Homo sapiens: one gene and its partners. The protein of the gene in region 4 purifies or fractionates together with the protein of the main gene of each other region. This does not show direct contact. Each region holds a gene or a part of one and is shown on either strand. Other genes may lie near its edges.

The links. The genes of interacting proteins can lie anywhere in the genome.
Region 1: the proteins of PEF1 (region 4) and NUDCD3 purify together in Homo sapiens (affinity purification with mass spectrometry; 2 studies listed by BioGRID and IntAct, with this or other methods). This does not show direct contact.
Region 2: the proteins of PEF1 (region 4) and KIAA0930 purify together in Homo sapiens (affinity purification with mass spectrometry; 3 studies listed by BioGRID and IntAct, with this or other methods). This does not show direct contact.
Region 3: the proteins of PEF1 (region 4) and KLK5 purify together in Homo sapiens (co-immunoprecipitation; one large-scale study listed by IntAct). This does not show direct contact.

Annotation. Positions count from the first base shown.
Region 1 is NC_000007.14:44,484,159-44,487,722, reverse strand, and holds part of NUDCD3 (nudC domain-containing protein 3), read left to right. Parts: intron 1-2,438; coding exon 2,439-2,755; intron 2,756-3,564.
Region 2 is NC_000022.11:45,206,395-45,209,958, forward strand, and holds part of KIAA0930 (uncharacterized protein KIAA0930), read right to left. Parts: intron 1-3,564.
Region 3 is NC_000019.10:50,946,539-50,950,102, reverse strand, and holds part of KLK5 (kallikrein-5 preproprotein), read left to right. Parts: coding exon 1-248; intron 249-987; coding exon 988-1,244; intron 1,245-1,329; coding exon 1,330-1,463; intron 1,464-3,564. UniProt on the Homo sapiens protein: May be involved in desquamation.
Region 4 is NC_000001.11:31,630,954-31,635,805, reverse strand, and holds part of PEF1 (peflin), read left to right. Parts: intron 1-283; coding exon 284-584; intron 585-862; coding exon of another isoform or gene 863-960; exon of another isoform or gene 961-1,140; intron 1,141-1,313; exon of another isoform or gene 1,314-2,491; coding exon 2,492-2,647; exon of another isoform or gene 2,648-3,167; coding exon 3,168-3,311; coding exon of another isoform or gene 3,312-3,370; intron 3,371-4,852. UniProt on the Homo sapiens protein: Calcium-binding protein that acts as an adapter that bridges unrelated proteins or stabilizes weak protein-protein complexes in response to calcium.

The sequences.
Region 1 (3,564 bases), on a different chromosome or scaffold from region 4:
GCCTCAGCCTCCCAAAGTGCTGGGATTACAGACATGAGCTACTGCACCTGGCTGGAACCTGTTCTTTTATCCACAAAAGCTCATTTGACAGGAGGTTTGTAAAGGTGATTTCAGTATTGACAAGGGTTTTATTGTGGGGTGGGACAACACTGAATGAGACTGAGTGACTTGGTACCAGCATAACATTATTTCTTCGTGGTAGTAGGTGATCTCCTGACCTCCCCACTCCTACTCATCTGCCTCTTAGGGTTTTTTTTTTTTTCTGTCCCTAACTTGATGGCATAAGACTCCTTCCTGGGGTCTGCCTCTCCACCCCCACCAGATGTGGGATGCTTGGTGTCTCTGCTGAATATAGGCAGAGAAGAATTTGGATGGGAGTGCTGGGCTGCATCATTGTGGAACTTCAAAGCGTTCCCTTAATATTTTGGGGAGTACAGTGTTGGTGTAGAGTTAGGCAGCTCATACGTTTCCTTTTAAAAGTTTGCATAGCCTGGATACACAGCTTGAAGAACCTCAGCAGGAATGATGTATGTGAAAATTGCATTCCATTTTATAATACATTAGTATGTTTTAAGACAAAAATCGTTTAGACTGACAAGCCATTCATTATAATCGATAATGCTGTTTTTTTTGGAGTCCACTTTGAGAAGTGCTCCTTTGTAGAAGTCCTTGAAACTAGAATCAGGAAAGCTAGCTACATCCTGTTCCTTACATAAATTGTTGAGAAATCTTGGGAGAGTCACTTCACCTCTTGTCAGCTGAGAAGATTGATTGGAGGTTACAGATTAGAGTTCTCTTCCAGCCCTATGTTCTGTGACTCTAGAATGAGTACTGAGAACATGTGATAGTTGGGAGGTTGGCAGTGGTAGCACTTCCTGGTGGTGTGAATGGGTAGGTCAGAGAAGGCTGGATGTACTGAGTGAGCAGAGGCAGCTGCATGGTGAGGACTATCAAGTCTGGGGGTTCTGTGTTCGAAGTCTCAGGTGTTAGGAGAGAGAGATCTTGTTGCTTTGCTTTTGTGGAGTTAAGATGAAGATCTGGAGTATCAGCAGGATGAGCAACTCTGAAAGCATGGACTCAAAGCGGTAGAGACCCTAATGTTAGAATGAAGTCAGGGCTTCAGGTTATCTGCAGAAGTAAAAATGGTTCTGGTGTTGTTTCCAGTTTTTAACCTTTTAGGATTTTATTGATTTTTTTTTTTCCCCTCTGCCTACATCATCATCTCCCCACACTGTTTGGTGTGTGCTGCGTAGTTTTTTACTTCTTTTGCCAGCAGGAGCTGGGGCAAGTTACGTAACCTTTCCAAGCCTTATTTTTTTCTCATTTTTGAAATGTTGATGCTGTCTTCTTCACAGTATTTTTGTGAGGGTTTTGAGAGAATGTTTGTAAAATAATTTGACACAGTTAGTCTGTTAGCACCCTTTTGACTGCCCGCGCAGTGCACAGAACATTGTTATTTAATACCTGTCCGCATTCTAGCCCTTTGGAATCTGACTCCCACCCATGTCCCAGGTTGCTGTCTCAGCCTTTCCTTCCTCCAGTTATTGCAAGAGCTTTTGCCCTTCCTTGACAAGCCTATTCTTAGAGCTGTGGCATTTCCTCCAGTGGTTCCCTGTGGAAGATGTGCCTCTCATTCAGGGTCTAACTGGGATCCTCCTTGTTCCAAGAAGTCTCCCTAGATTTCTTTCGCCAGACATGCTCATTCCCACCCATACCCTGACAGGGAATTGAGGGCCTTGTCATGCCCCCTCTTGTATCAGAGTTTTCATGTGTGGGTATGTCTTGACTGTACTTTTTTGGTAGAGAGGTCCCAGCACCTTCATGGGTGTGACTGTTTCCCAGAAAATGTTAAGAACTTGTTTACACACCAGAATTTTGAGTTCTTAGGAGGCAGCAGAAATCATTTTGATGTTTTTTGTGCGTGCGTGTTTCTTGCACACTGTAGGCGCATAGTAGATGTTTGTTGAATTGAATGTCCATGCAGTGTGGTGAAAAACAGCAGCAGTCCTGTAAACCTGGTTCCATTTTGGGAATTGAAGTTCAGCCATATTTTCATGTTTCATTTGTGAGTCTGAATTTTGGTGCCTTTATAACCCACAGTTGTACCAGGACCGTGTATTCTTTGCATTGTGAACAAGACTGGGGTCTGTAAAATAATGACAACAAAGACCATCTAACTGTACATCTTTTAGGTATGTAAATATTGTTAGCCTTGGCTTATAAGTTTCTGATTTTGTTGATTTTGGAATCCTCCTGTTAAACACTGTTTACCTGTCAGCTTTTGGTGAAGTGGCAGTGCATTTCCATTTTGCCAGTGGGAAAACTTGTCAGTTTCTGACTTTTAGTTCTCTCCTTCACAGATTTTACGACATTTCTACAAGATATGTGGTACAGTATTGGGCAGATGAACTGATTGCTGGATTGGTGTTTGATTTTAGGTATTCAAAACCTTTGACCACATGGCCCGTCAGGATGATGAGAAGAGAAGGCAGGAACTTGAAGAGAAAATCAGAAGAAAGGAAGAGGAAGAGGCCAAGACTGTGTCAGCTGCTGCAGCTGAGAAGGAGCCAGTCCCAGTTCCAGTCCAGGAAATAGAGATTGACTCCACCACAGAATTGGATGGGCATCAGGAAGTAGAGAAAGTGCAGCCTCCAGGCCCTGTGAAGGAAATGGCCCATGGTTCACAGGAGGCAGAAGCTCCAGGAGCAGTTGCTGGTGCTGCTGAAGTCCCTAGGGAACCACCAATTCTTCCCAGGTGGGAATTTCTACTTTGCAGCTTCCTTCTTTCTTGCGTAACATCTGGTGTTTGGGTTTCTCCATAATTTATTCTTACTTTGTAACACATTAATTCTTGATCTCAGTATTTATTTAGCTCTTCATGTTTGTAAACTGCTGCATTACAGTCTTTCAGTTATGTAGGATGGGAGGTCAGTTGGCTTAAGGTCAGTTCCCTCATTTGGTAAGGTCAGTAGTCATACAACCATTTGAGATCCAGAGCCAAAATTAGAGCACTTGACTCCTCTCACAAAGACCTAACTTTATCTGTGTTTAGAGGCTTAGCCTCAGCAGCTCGATTGTTTGTGTTTTTCTCTCTGCAGGAGCACTGCTAGGATTTGCTCATGATGCCTGAGGTATAATGGACACCTGAAATGACAGTCTGTTTTAGGTGACTGGATTCACATCCTCGCTATGCCGCTTCCTGAATGTATTACCTTGAACAAGCAGTATAACCTTTCTGTGTCTCAGTTTTCTTCTCTATAAAATGTAGGTGATAATAATAGTACCTGTCTCATAGAGCTGTTGTGAATTTTAAATGAGCCGATAGTCAAGCAGCTAATGAGCAGTAGAGCTTGAATATGACATGAGGTTTCCCTGAATCAAGCCTCTTGCTTTATGTACTTGTACTCACTTTTTAGGAGTTATGTTTTGTGGGTGCTCTAAACTTAGTTATACAGTCCTTCCTTACAGTCTGAGTGAGAGGAGCTGATCCCTTCTTGTGTGGGAGTTGTAGTAGTGTCTGCAAGACAGCCACGAGCCTCCTGGCCTGCTTTGTTTTTTTGGAAA
Region 2 (3,564 bases), on a different chromosome or scaffold from region 4:
TCAGTTTCTTCATCTGTACAATGGACTAAGGGCATCTTCCCCTCAAAGTTGTCATAATGATTTAAAGAGCTCATATTTGCTAAGTGGCATCAATGATAATAGTGACACCTACTGAGCTCTTAGTGGACGGCGGGGTCTGGGCTACACATTTTACAAATTATTAATCCTTTTAAAGCAACCCTGCAATGCAGGTATCATTAGCCCCATGTTAACAGATCAGAGTCAAATTTACTGAAGATCAATAATAAATACATATCAGAGAGAAACCAAAGCATGTCTACACCTCTCCTGGGAGACTGGCTTCCAATTTTTTTTTTTTTTTGAGACAGAATCTCACTCCATCCGTCACCCAGGCTACAGTGCAACACATCTTGGCTCACTGCAGTCTCCGCCTCCTGGATTCTAATGATTCTCCTGCCTCAGCCTCCTGAGTAGCTGGGATTACAGGCACGTGCCACCACACCTGTCTACTTTTTGTATTTTTGGTAGAGACAGGATTTCACCATGTTGGCCAGGCTGGTCTCGAACTCCTGACCTCAGGTGATCTGCCCACCTCGGCCTCCTAAAGTGCTGGGATTACAAGCATGGGCCACCGTGCCCGGCCTCAATTTATTTCTTATTTATTGTTTTGAGACGGAGTCTCGCTCTGTCACCCGGGCTGGAGTACAGTGGCACAATCTTGGCTCACTGCAACCTCTACCTCCTGGGTTCATGTGATTCTCCTGCCCCAGCCTCCCAAGTAGCTGGGATTACAGGTGTCTGCCACCACACCTGGCTAATTTTTTTCTGTATTTTTAATAGAGAGGGGGTTTCACCATGTTGGCCAGGCTGATCTCGAACTCCTGACCTCAAGTGATCTACCCACCTCGGCCTCCCAAAGTGCAGGGATTACAGGCATGAGCCACTGCACCCGGCCTCAATTTATTTCTTATTTTTTTATTTTTTTGAGATGAAGTCTTGCTTTGTCACCCGGGCTGGAGTACAGTGGCACAATCTTGGCTCACTGCAACCTCTACCTCCTGGGTTCACGTGATTCTCCTGCCCCAGCCTCCCAAGTACCTGGGATTATAGGCGTCTGCCACCACACGTAATTTTTTTTTTTTTTTTTTAATAGAGACGGGGTTTCACCATGTTGGCCAAGCTGATCTCAAACTCCTGACCTCAAGTGATCTACCCACCTCGGCCTCCCAAAGTGCAGGGATTACAGGCGTGAGCCACCGCGCCCAGCCTGGCTTTCAATTTTGAAGCAGCTGTGCTGACTGGGGGCCTCTGGTCCCGGTCCTGGGTGCTCTCACTGACTCGGGCTCCGAGGGGCTGGGCACTGCTGGGCCCTCTTGCAGGTGCACAGGCCTGCACCCCCCAAAGGCAGAGCTGGGATCTATGGAAAGAGGTGCAAGAGGCCAACCTTGCCTAGGAGCGAGAAACAGACGTCCCCGGGTCGGGGGGCCCCACTTCCACCGCCTGTATGGTTCTGCAGTCACCCCGAGCCCCTGAGCTGAGAGTCCTGGGGTTCACAAGACTCTGCTGTTCCTCCTGGTCTCGCTTCATTGACCTGTTCATTTGCTTTTGCTCAGCAAAGCGCTGTGGACTCAGTGAATGAAAGGCTCGGGGGCACGATCACACGGCTGTTCGGGGCAGCACCACAGCACAGGCAGGCGAAAGAGCAGGTTCCCCATCAGAAAGGTGTCCGTGTGCGCACCAAAGCCAGGCCCAAGAGGACACTGGGAGCTGCCCGGTACCCACTGACAGGAGGGTGGCCAGGCCGCCATGGTACACTCTGCAGGCATTACACAGCAGTGAGACCAGATTACAACCACCTGTGTCAACAGGCATGACTCACAAACATGACATGCGGAGAAAGAAGCCTGAAACAACATATACTGCCCGATTCCAATGTATGAGCTGTGAGAACAGGCAGAACCACCGACTCCACACACATGAGCTGTGAGAACAGGCAGAACCACCGACTCCACATGCACGAGCTGTAAGAACAGGTAGAACCCGCCAACTCCACACACACGAGCTGTGAGAACAGGCAGAACCCAACTCCACACGCAGGAGCTGTGAGAACAGGCAGAACCACCGACTCCACACGCACGAGCTGTAAGAACAGGCAGAACCCACCGACTCCACATGCAGGAGCTGTGAGAACAGGCAGAACCCGCCCGGGAAGTTTGAGGAGACAGAGCAGCAGCTGCCCAGGGGGAGGTTGAGCCCTGGGGTGGGGTGAAGGGGCCTCGGTGTTCTCATCACACTCTGTATCTGGGGGCTGGTGAAACCAGGTGTTCAGTCTAAGAAGAATCAAACTGTGTACACGTCTGTGTTTTTCTGTATAGACGTTATATTGAAAACAATCTACTAAAAAGGAAAAAGTGAGACTGGGGACAGGGCTTCGCCGCTGGCAAACTGTGTGACCCCAGGAAGCTTCCTCCCCGTCTCTGAGCTTTGGTTTTCTGAGTGGGTGTGAAGGTGATCGGCACCTTAGGATCCTGAGGTGTCACGTGACCGTGAGACACAGGGCTCCGGCCACCAGCGCAGAGCCAGCAGCACACAGAGCCAGGTCCCCCTCCTGCCAAAGGCACACAATGGGCTGCCCAGGAACACAGAGCGTTTTGTCCAGGGCTGGAGGAAACAGAGGGCAGGGAATCCAGGACATCCCTCCCTGGGAAAGGCTGGACTGGGGATGTCCCTTGGGCCCTGGAGCACTCGGGGTTCCTGGCATCCTGTCCCCCTGACACTGCAGCTCCTGCCCATCCACGCTCCCCTGCTAGGTGCAGGAGGCCCGGCTGGTTGCTATGGCAACCGGGTACCAGCGGGATGGGCATGGGGAGGGGGCGGGAAGTAGCCAGGCTCCCGCAGAGGACTTGCAGTGCGCAGGCGACTCCGCGGGTCCCCCACCTCCACCGAGCGCTCAGGGCTTTTGCCAGGGGGGGTCTCCCCGTCTCCCCATCAGCGCCTCCAGCCTGCCCCCTGCAGGCCACCCTCAGCACTGCAGCCCGACAAGCTGGGAAAAATGCCAAGTTGGGGCAGCCCCAGGACCCACCCACCAGGCCCCGCAATCTCCATCGGCCTAGTCTGGCAGGTCCCATGTGGCACTCGTCACACACCCTCCCACTCTGCACTCACTGGTCCCTCCACGGGGCGTGTCCTCAGCCCACTGCTGCCCGCTCTCTCTGTCCTACAACCCGCCCGCCAGATGTCACCTTCTGCACTCCCCCCACCACCGCCGCCCTGCTCCTCTTCCCACCATCACAGCACTGATGGCTCCATAGCACTGGCCATACCGTCTGTCTATCCAAACAGACTGAGGCCAGATATGAGTCATTTCTGTGCTCCCAGCACTGAGTGTGGGGGGGCATCTGCACATGGCTCACAGTGGGTGTTCAATAGAACATTCTAGCATGTAAACAGCTGGACTGCCACCTGCTCCCGTGGGACTCAGGCTTCCCTCACTGACCTCGACACCCCCAAATTTTCAGCAGATCCTGGATGTGACCCCATCCCCTCTGCTCCAAATTCCTCAGGCCTAGATCCAGGGCTGCGCTTTCTCAGTGGAGGGCTCTC
Region 3 (3,564 bases), on a different chromosome or scaffold from region 4:
AACAATGATGTTTCCTGTGACCACCCCTCTAACACCGTGCCCTCTGGGAGCAACCAGGACCTGGGAGCTGGGGCCGGGGAAGACGCCCGGTCGGATGACAGCAGCAGCCGCATCATCAATGGATCCGACTGCGATATGCACACCCAGCCGTGGCAGGCCGCGCTGTTGCTAAGGCCCAACCAGCTCTACTGCGGGGCGGTGTTGGTGCATCCACAGTGGCTGCTCACGGCCGCCCACTGCAGGAAGAAGTGAGTGGGAGTTCCAAGAGGAGGGTTGGTGGGGACGGGGAAGTGGGGGTGGGGGTGGGGAAGTGGGGGTGGGGGTGTCATGGAGGTGAGGGCTGGTGGGGACGGGGAAGTGGGGTTGGGGGTGTCATGGAAGGTGAGGGTTGGTGGGGATGGGTTGGGGATGTGGGAGCAGGAGGAGGTCGAGTTGGGGATAGGACTAAGGATGGAGTTTTGCGGGGGAGCAAGGTGGGAGGATGAGGTTGGAGAGGGGAGAGTGTTGTGGTAGGGAATGGGAAGGAGCCAAGGATGGGTTGGATTTGGGGTTAGGAGCATATATTTGTTGAATGGTTTGGGATGGAGGTGGAATTGGGATTGGCTTTAGAATTGGGGGTGGGTGAAAATCGGGCTGGGGTGGAAATGAAGATAGCATGGAGATAGGGTTGAGATTGGGAGCAGATATAGAATGAAGGATGGGGATTGGAGTTTTGGGTGGGGTTGGAGATGGTTGGATTTGGGCTTGAGAATGCATATGGTGATGGCTTCTGGGTAGGGAAAGAATTAGGGTTGGGAATGGGATGGGTTTGGAATTGTGACTGGGATGGGGACAGGCATGGGATTGGAGACCAAGAGGGAGTTGAGGATGGTTTGGGGACCGGGGGTGGGGATGGGGGTGGGGCTGGGGCTGGGTGTGGGGTTGGGATTGGCGTTGGACGTGGAGATAGAGATCAGGGTTGGTGGTGACCTGCCCCATCTTCCTCAGAGTTTTCAGAGTCCGTCTCGGCCACTACTCCCTGTCACCAGTTTATGAATCTGGGCAGCAGATGTTCCAGGGGGTCAAATCCATCCCCCACCCTGGCTACTCCCACCCTGGCCACTCTAACGACCTCATGCTCATCAAACTGAACAGAAGAATTCGTCCCACTAAAGATGTCAGACCCATCAACGTCTCCTCTCATTGTCCCTCTGCTGGGACAAAGTGCTTGGTGTCTGGCTGGGGGACAACCAAGAGCCCCCAAGGTGAGTGTCCAGGTTCTTCTTGATACCGACCCATCTCTGCCGCCTTCCATCTTTCTCCACTTCTCATTGTGTTCCTGTTTGACAGTGCACTTCCCTAAGGTCCTCCAGTGCTTGAATATCAGCGTGCTAAGTCAGAAAAGGTGCGAGGATGCTTACCCGAGACAGATAGATGACACCATGTTCTGCGCCGGTGACAAAGCAGGTAGAGACTCCTGCCAGGTGAGGACACCTCTCTTTATTCAGCAGATACACACTGAGTGCCAACTCGGTAACATGGAGCGTTGCCAAATTCTGAGAATCCAGCAATTGCCAAGACAGTCAGGACCCCTGTTCTCACAGAGCTCATACCCTAGAGTAGTGGTGTTTAGTAGAAATAATGCTGAGCTGCTTATGTCATTTCCAGTTTTTTAGTAGCCACATTAAAACAGGTAAAAAAGGCTGGGCGCAGTGGCTCACACCTGTAATCCCAGCACTTTGGGAGGCTGAGGCAGGCAGATCACCTTTGGTCAGGAGTTTGAGACTAGCCTGGCCAACATGGCGAAACTCTGTCTCTAAAAAAAAATACAAAAATTAGCCTGGCATGGTGGCGGGCGCCTGTAATCTCAGCTGCTCAGGAGGCCGAGACACAAGAATCACTTAAACCCAGGAGGTGGAGGTTGCAGTGAGCTGAGATCGTGCCACTCACTCCAACCTGGGAGACAGAGTGACACTTTTGTCTCAAAAAGAAAAAAAAAAACAAGTAAAAAAGAAACAGGTGAAGTTAACTTTAATAACCCAATGTATCCCAAATACAATCATTTCAAAGTGTAATTAATATAAAACAATTATGAATGAGATACTTTACATTCTTTTCTTGTTTTCATATTAAGTCTTTGAAAGTGAGTATATATGTTATGCTGACAGCACATCTCAATTTGGACTAGCTACATTTCAGGTGCTCAGTAGCCACATGTGGCTAGCAGTTACTGTATTGGATGGCACGGATCTAGAGGGAAAGATCAGGGCTGTTTTGTATGGTTGGGCAGGTTGTGCACTGCATAAAGATACCATATCTAATAGGGGCACTCCGTGTTACAGATGTCAGTTTTGGCAGTTTTCAGGCGTGTGGTAGTTAAGTGTCTTGTTTCAACAAAATCTGTAATATGACAGTTTTCTAGCAAGTGCTGGTAAAATATCTTGAGGAAGGAAAAGAGAAATCTGGTAGGTATTTTTACAAGAGAATATTTAATACAGGGGATTAATTGCAAAGCTGCTGGAAGGGCTGGAGGAACAAAGTTAAAAAATAAAAAACTCTGTGGTCAAGAATCTGCATAAATAGGGCAATTTCAGAGAGTGGTAAAGGTTAACCCCAAAATAAAACATGGTTTTAGGATAGTAAACAATAAGGGCCAATATTCAAAAAGGTGGTCAGGGGAGCCTCCTTGGAGAGGTGGCATTTGAGCAGAGAATGGATGACACAAAGAAGCTAAACTCGTGAAGTTTAAGGGGAAAGAAAAGGCACGTGCAAAGGCCCTGAGGCAGTAAGGAATTTGGCTGATTCAAAGAAGAAGAGGAAACCAATGCAACTGGAGAACAAAAGTGGGGGCAACAGTAGAAAGTGACGCTGGAGGTGTAGGCAGGGGCGAATGCTCTGCAAGTATTTCTTGGTCACCAACACAGAGCTTCCCTATGTTCTAATGGAAGCTGTATCTGTTGAGGAAGACAGAATTTAAAATCAAACTGTTACATCAACCAGCACCCTTCTCTGTATTCAGGCTCCCAAGGGATCTAGAAGGACGTAAGTTAACAAGCTCTCATTAGCAGGGTGTGTGTTTCAACAGTAGTTAGGAAGCTGGGGATTCAGGAGTACTCCAGTCCCATGGCTATGAAAAGCTCCCCCCAAATTGTACAAACCTGACAAATGCAACACCTCCCCAGCTCTCCCCATTTCTTCTCTGTGCCCTGGGTGTGGGGGGGTGGGTTGCGAGGGGGAAAACTTTTAACAGAAGAAAGCACATCTCGGCCGGGCGTGGTGGCTCACACCTGTAATCCCAACACTTTGGGAGGCCGAGGCGGGTGGATCACTAGGTCAGGAGATGGAGACCATCCTGGCTGACACGGTGAAACCCTGTCTCTACTAAAAACACAAAAAATTAGCCGGGCGTGGTGGCAGGCGCCTGTAGTCCCAGCTACTCGGGAGGCTGAGGCAGGAGAATGGCCTGAACCCGGGAGGCGGAACTTGCAGTGAGCCGAGGTTGCACCACTGCACTCCAGCCTGGGCAACACAGTGAGACTCCGTCTCAAAAAAAAAAAAAGAAAAGAAAAGAAATCACATCTCATT
Region 4 (4,852 bases):
AGGATCCTAGCCCTTGTGGAGCCCCTTGATGTGCAGGAAAGGAGAGTTAGGAAAGGAGGATTTCAACCCTGACTCTGCAGGTCATTGGCGGGGTGACTTTGGGTAACTCGTTGCTCCTCTGGAAGCCTCAGTTTGCCCATCTGAGCAGTGAGATCATAATTCCAACCCTACCTATAGGATCAGTTGAAAGGATGGTGGTGGAAGTGCTTTATGGTTGTAAAGTGCCATACTCTGCCTAGTTTCTGGCCTCATCATTCTGACTGATATCTTGCTCTTCCTGCAGGGCTGCCCAGGAGCTGCAGGACAAGCACCAGGAGCCCCTCCGGGTAGCTACTACCCTGGACCCCCCAATAGTGGAGGGCAGTATGGTAGTGGGCTACCCCCTGGTGGTGGTTATGGGGGTCCTGCCCCTGGAGGGCCTTATGGACCACCAGCTGGTGGAGGGCCCTATGGACACCCCAATCCTGGGATGTTCCCCTCTGGAACTCCAGGAGGACCATATGGCGGTGCAGCTCCCGGGGGCCCCTATGGTCAGCCACCTCCAAGTTCCTACGGTGCCCAGCAGCCTGGGCTTTATGGACAGGGTAAGTAGTAATCTTGGACTCCGGGTACCTCTGACGTGGTTCTGAGTTATCCATGGCCAGCCTTTGTCCTTCCTGTGGGTGTGCAGGCAGCCTGGTCTCTGGCACCTTAGCATCTTGCTTCCAGCTTCAGTGTGTATCCTCAAAATGATAAGTTTGTCAGCTAGTTTTGTTGCAAGCATTTATTTGTATTGCTTGCTCATGCTTACTTTCTTTTGCTTACATGTCAGCAGCTGTTAGCTGGCTGTTGAGTTTCTGTTCCCTGTGTCTTTTTCATTCAGGGATACATGCTGAAGGAGCAGCTCCTGTTTGGGATATGTTATCTTTGTGGCAGAGAGAAGGAGCAGGAGAGCTAGCAAGAATGCACAATGCCTCTTAAAGCTTCTCTGAAGTACTGTATGTCTTGCCCACTTGCATTCTTTTGGCCAGAGCACCCCCTGATCAAGACTGACATCAGTAGGATGGGAAAGGATGCCCCTCTGCAAGCCACCAGGCAGTGGGAGAGGATGTACAATGCTCTTATAGGGAAGGGGAGATTAGCAAGTAATCTAATAATAGATTATTGAACTGGCCTTTTAAACCATTGTACCATATTAGTACAATGTCTGTGGGTGTGCAGACTGTGTCTCCTGGCTAGAGATTATTAGCCAGGAGACGATAATGTAGCCTACCATGGGGAGAAACTCAGTTTAAATATCCGTTTCTCTGTGAAAATATCTCAGAAGACACACATTCCAGGCTCTTTGCTGAGGATTTTATTTTGCTGTTATCTCATTTAATCATCACAACAATTCTGGGGAAATGGGTTCATTTTAGAAATGTGAAAATCATTACTCAGAAAATTGTACATTTTGCCTAAAGTCACACAAGCTAGTAAGGATCAGATCCAGGGTTTGAATCCAGGTCTGCTTTGATTCCAAAGCCTGAGCCCTTCTATACAAACTACACAGTTCAAACATGTCACAGAATCTCTCCTGCCCTGGGGCTGTGGCCCTTGCTCCCCTATGACACCGATGTTTTAGGAAGATGGCTAGAACCTGCCCGGATTTTTCCAAGGAAGTCAGACTAATCCCTAAGTCAGGCATACCTTTTTCCCTCTGTCCTTACTGGGCTTTGGTACTAGGCAGTGGTTTCTGTCCTCCACAACTGCCCATGGCTGTCTTTGTGTGAAGGGACCCCGATTGTGGCCAGTTAACTCAGTGTCCTAAGGTAGACAGACTTACCAGCTTCTACACTGTTTTTTTTGGGTTTTTTTGTTTTTTTTTTTTTGAGATGGAGTTTCGCTTTTGTTGCCCAGGCTGGAGTGCAATGGCGTGATCTTGGCTCACCACAACCTCCACCTCCCGGGTTCAAGCGATTCTCCTGCTTCAGCCTCCCCAGTAGCTGGGATTACAGGCATGTGCCACCATGCCCGGCTAATTTTCTATTTTTAGTAGAGACGGGGTTTCTCCATGTTGGTCAAGCTGGTCTCAAACTCCCGACCTCAGGTGATCCGCCTGCCTCGGCTTCCCAAAGTGCTGGGATTACAGTCGTGAGCCACTGTGCCTGGCCACTTCTACACTTTTATCTACCACCCATTCCCCCATCTCGCAGTTTACCTTTTCCAGAGAATTCTTGAAATGCTACAGGGGTACAGGTCCCCGTTCCTTAAAAACATAAAATCAATTAAGAGTAGTGTCTGGAACACTATACGAGAACTCCAGAGGACTCATGGAATAGAAATCAACTGCAAATACTCATGAATCTTCACTGAAGGTCCTCTTCCATCAGAGTAAGAATGTCAGCTTGATGGAAGACAGGGAAGGTGAATTTGTGAAGCTTCGTGTGTAGGAGAAACCTGTAGCCAGGAAGTTACTGAGGCTGGCCCTTCCTGGCATTTCTGTTGATGGCCTTCACACCCCTTCCTCCAGGTGGCGCCCCTCCCAATGTGGATCCTGAGGCCTACTCCTGGTTCCAGTCGGTGGACTCAGATCACAGTGGCTATATCTCCATGAAGGAGCTAAAGCAGGCCCTGGTCAACTGCAATTGGTCTTCATTCAATGATGAGACCTGCCTCATGATGATAAGTGAGTCTCCGCCTTGCCCTTGGGCCTGAGCTGGGGCAGAGCCACCTGATAGTGGACAGTAGGTGGGTAGGTGGGTGGGTGGACATTCTGAAGAGAAATTCATTGACCAGGGAGGACTGTGGGGAGGAAGCTAGGTTCAGGGTGAGATCCCCTAGACTGAGAGCTCTTTTCCTGAGATCTTTCTTAAGTTCTAGACCCTGCCTAGTTACAGGTTAACTTAGTTTCCTCTTCTGTAGAATGGTACTCCCTCCCCTGTAGGAAACAGCAGGGAGGGGTCAGGTGCCAAGCCTGCAGAGAAAATGCAGTTCTGGATGGGGTGGGGCTAAAGGTGTCCAGAGTAGGAGGACGGTGCAACGCTTGATGTGGGTGTCTCAGGTGCAGGCATCTGGGCCTCAGGGCTTGGTTCTGTGAAGTCGCCTACTCCAGCCTGGAGAGAAGGGCTGCCTCAATGGGTCCTGAGGGGGACCCTTGGCCTTCAGTCTTGAAGCCTTCCTCCCCTCCTTTCCCTCCTCACCTTCAGACATGTTTGACAAGACCAAGTCAGGCCGCATCGATGTCTACGGCTTCTCAGCCCTGTGGAAATTCATCCAGCAGTGGAAGAACCTCTTCCAGCAGTATGACCGGGACCGCTCGGGCTCCATTAGCTACACAGAGCTGCAGCAAGGTGCGGGTCATGGCCGGGGCACGATGGGCAGGACAGAGCTAGACTCTTCTCTTTACACCCTAAGATACAACAAAGGGGTTTCCTCTTGTTACCGAATGTCCACCTGCACTACAAAATGCTGTTCTCAGTGCAGGCCTGCATCCCTCACCCCTTCTTTGACCCAGCTGGGGCACTGAGCCAAGAGCCAGGGCAAGGAAACACCTGGGTCCAGAATCAGGGCTGGACCCTGGAGTGCTGGGTGAGACGGCCCCAGCCACAGGGAGCCTTAAGGATGGAAACTTGGCACCTTAAGGACTATGAGACCAGTGTGTGTGGCTTGGGTGACTCCTTTCTCTCCAGTTTCTAGCATGTAGAATGGAAAGAGCCCTGAACAGGGCTCAGAAAGATGGGTCTGTTGCCACCTCTGCTAGTGGACAGTTTCTTTCCCAACTTTTGGGACCCTGAGCACTCTAAAAGTTGCAGTTGGGGAAGATGACCTGAGGCCACAGCCCCAGGTCTGGTTCCAAACTGACTGTGTAAGGCAGAAGGCCACAGTTTGGGCTCAGGCAGGTTAGTAAGAGGTTGGGGGAGGACCCAAGAGGGAGCTTTGCCACCCAGGAGGGAGAAAGGGCTCCCCAGAGAGTCTAGTCCTTTGCCCAGGCTGTGGATTTCATTCAGACTAAGGAGGTCTGTGGGCAGGAGTGAGTGCACCACATCTGCCCCCAGTAAAAGGGAGGGGAGATGACCTATAGTAATCACCTACTCTTGCCAGCTTTTGTCGTGGATATTAGTAAGGGTGATATTAACCACAACAAAACGTATTTACTGAATGCTTGCTATTTTTAATAGGCTTATGTAATTCATTCTTCCCATGTGCTAGGTACTATTTATAATTCCACACCCTTCAATGAAGAATCCCTTATAATCTCCCTTTTACCGGTGAGAAAACTGAGGTTTAGTGTAGGTAACCTGCCCAAGGGCCCGCATAACAAATGGAGAGCTGAGGTTTTAGCCTGGCCTGGTAAGTTCTGAACAGAGGAAGGAAGGAAGCATCCCAGTGAAGAGACAGGATGCTCCAAGAGACCTTGGAGTGACAGTGACTTTATTAAAATAGCATTTACCAAGTGCTTTTTCTGTGCCAGTCACTGTGCTAAGTGCTTTACATGATCACCCGTTTTAATCCTTACTAGAACCTACAAGTTAAGTATTATCCCCATTTTAGAGATGATAAGATAGGGATAGTGAGGCTAAGCAACTTGCCCAGTGGCTGACTCCAGAGCAGGTCCTCATACCTCTGCTGTACTGCCTCTGATGTCTGCCCCAGGCAAGGTGGTCCTGGGAGCTCAGGCTTCCTTTTGGAATGCAAACGAATCAGAGATGATTGCGGATAGTCCGTTGTCGTCTCTGCAATCCCCTGAGCCTCAGTTGAAGAGACAATAATGGAGATTTGGAGAAAGAGGGATGAGGGCCTTCCACCTAAGGGGAGCATCCAGACACGGTCCCTGTTGTGTTTCTGACATCTTAGACAGACCCTTGGGATTTCTCTACCCTCTTTGTGCTTC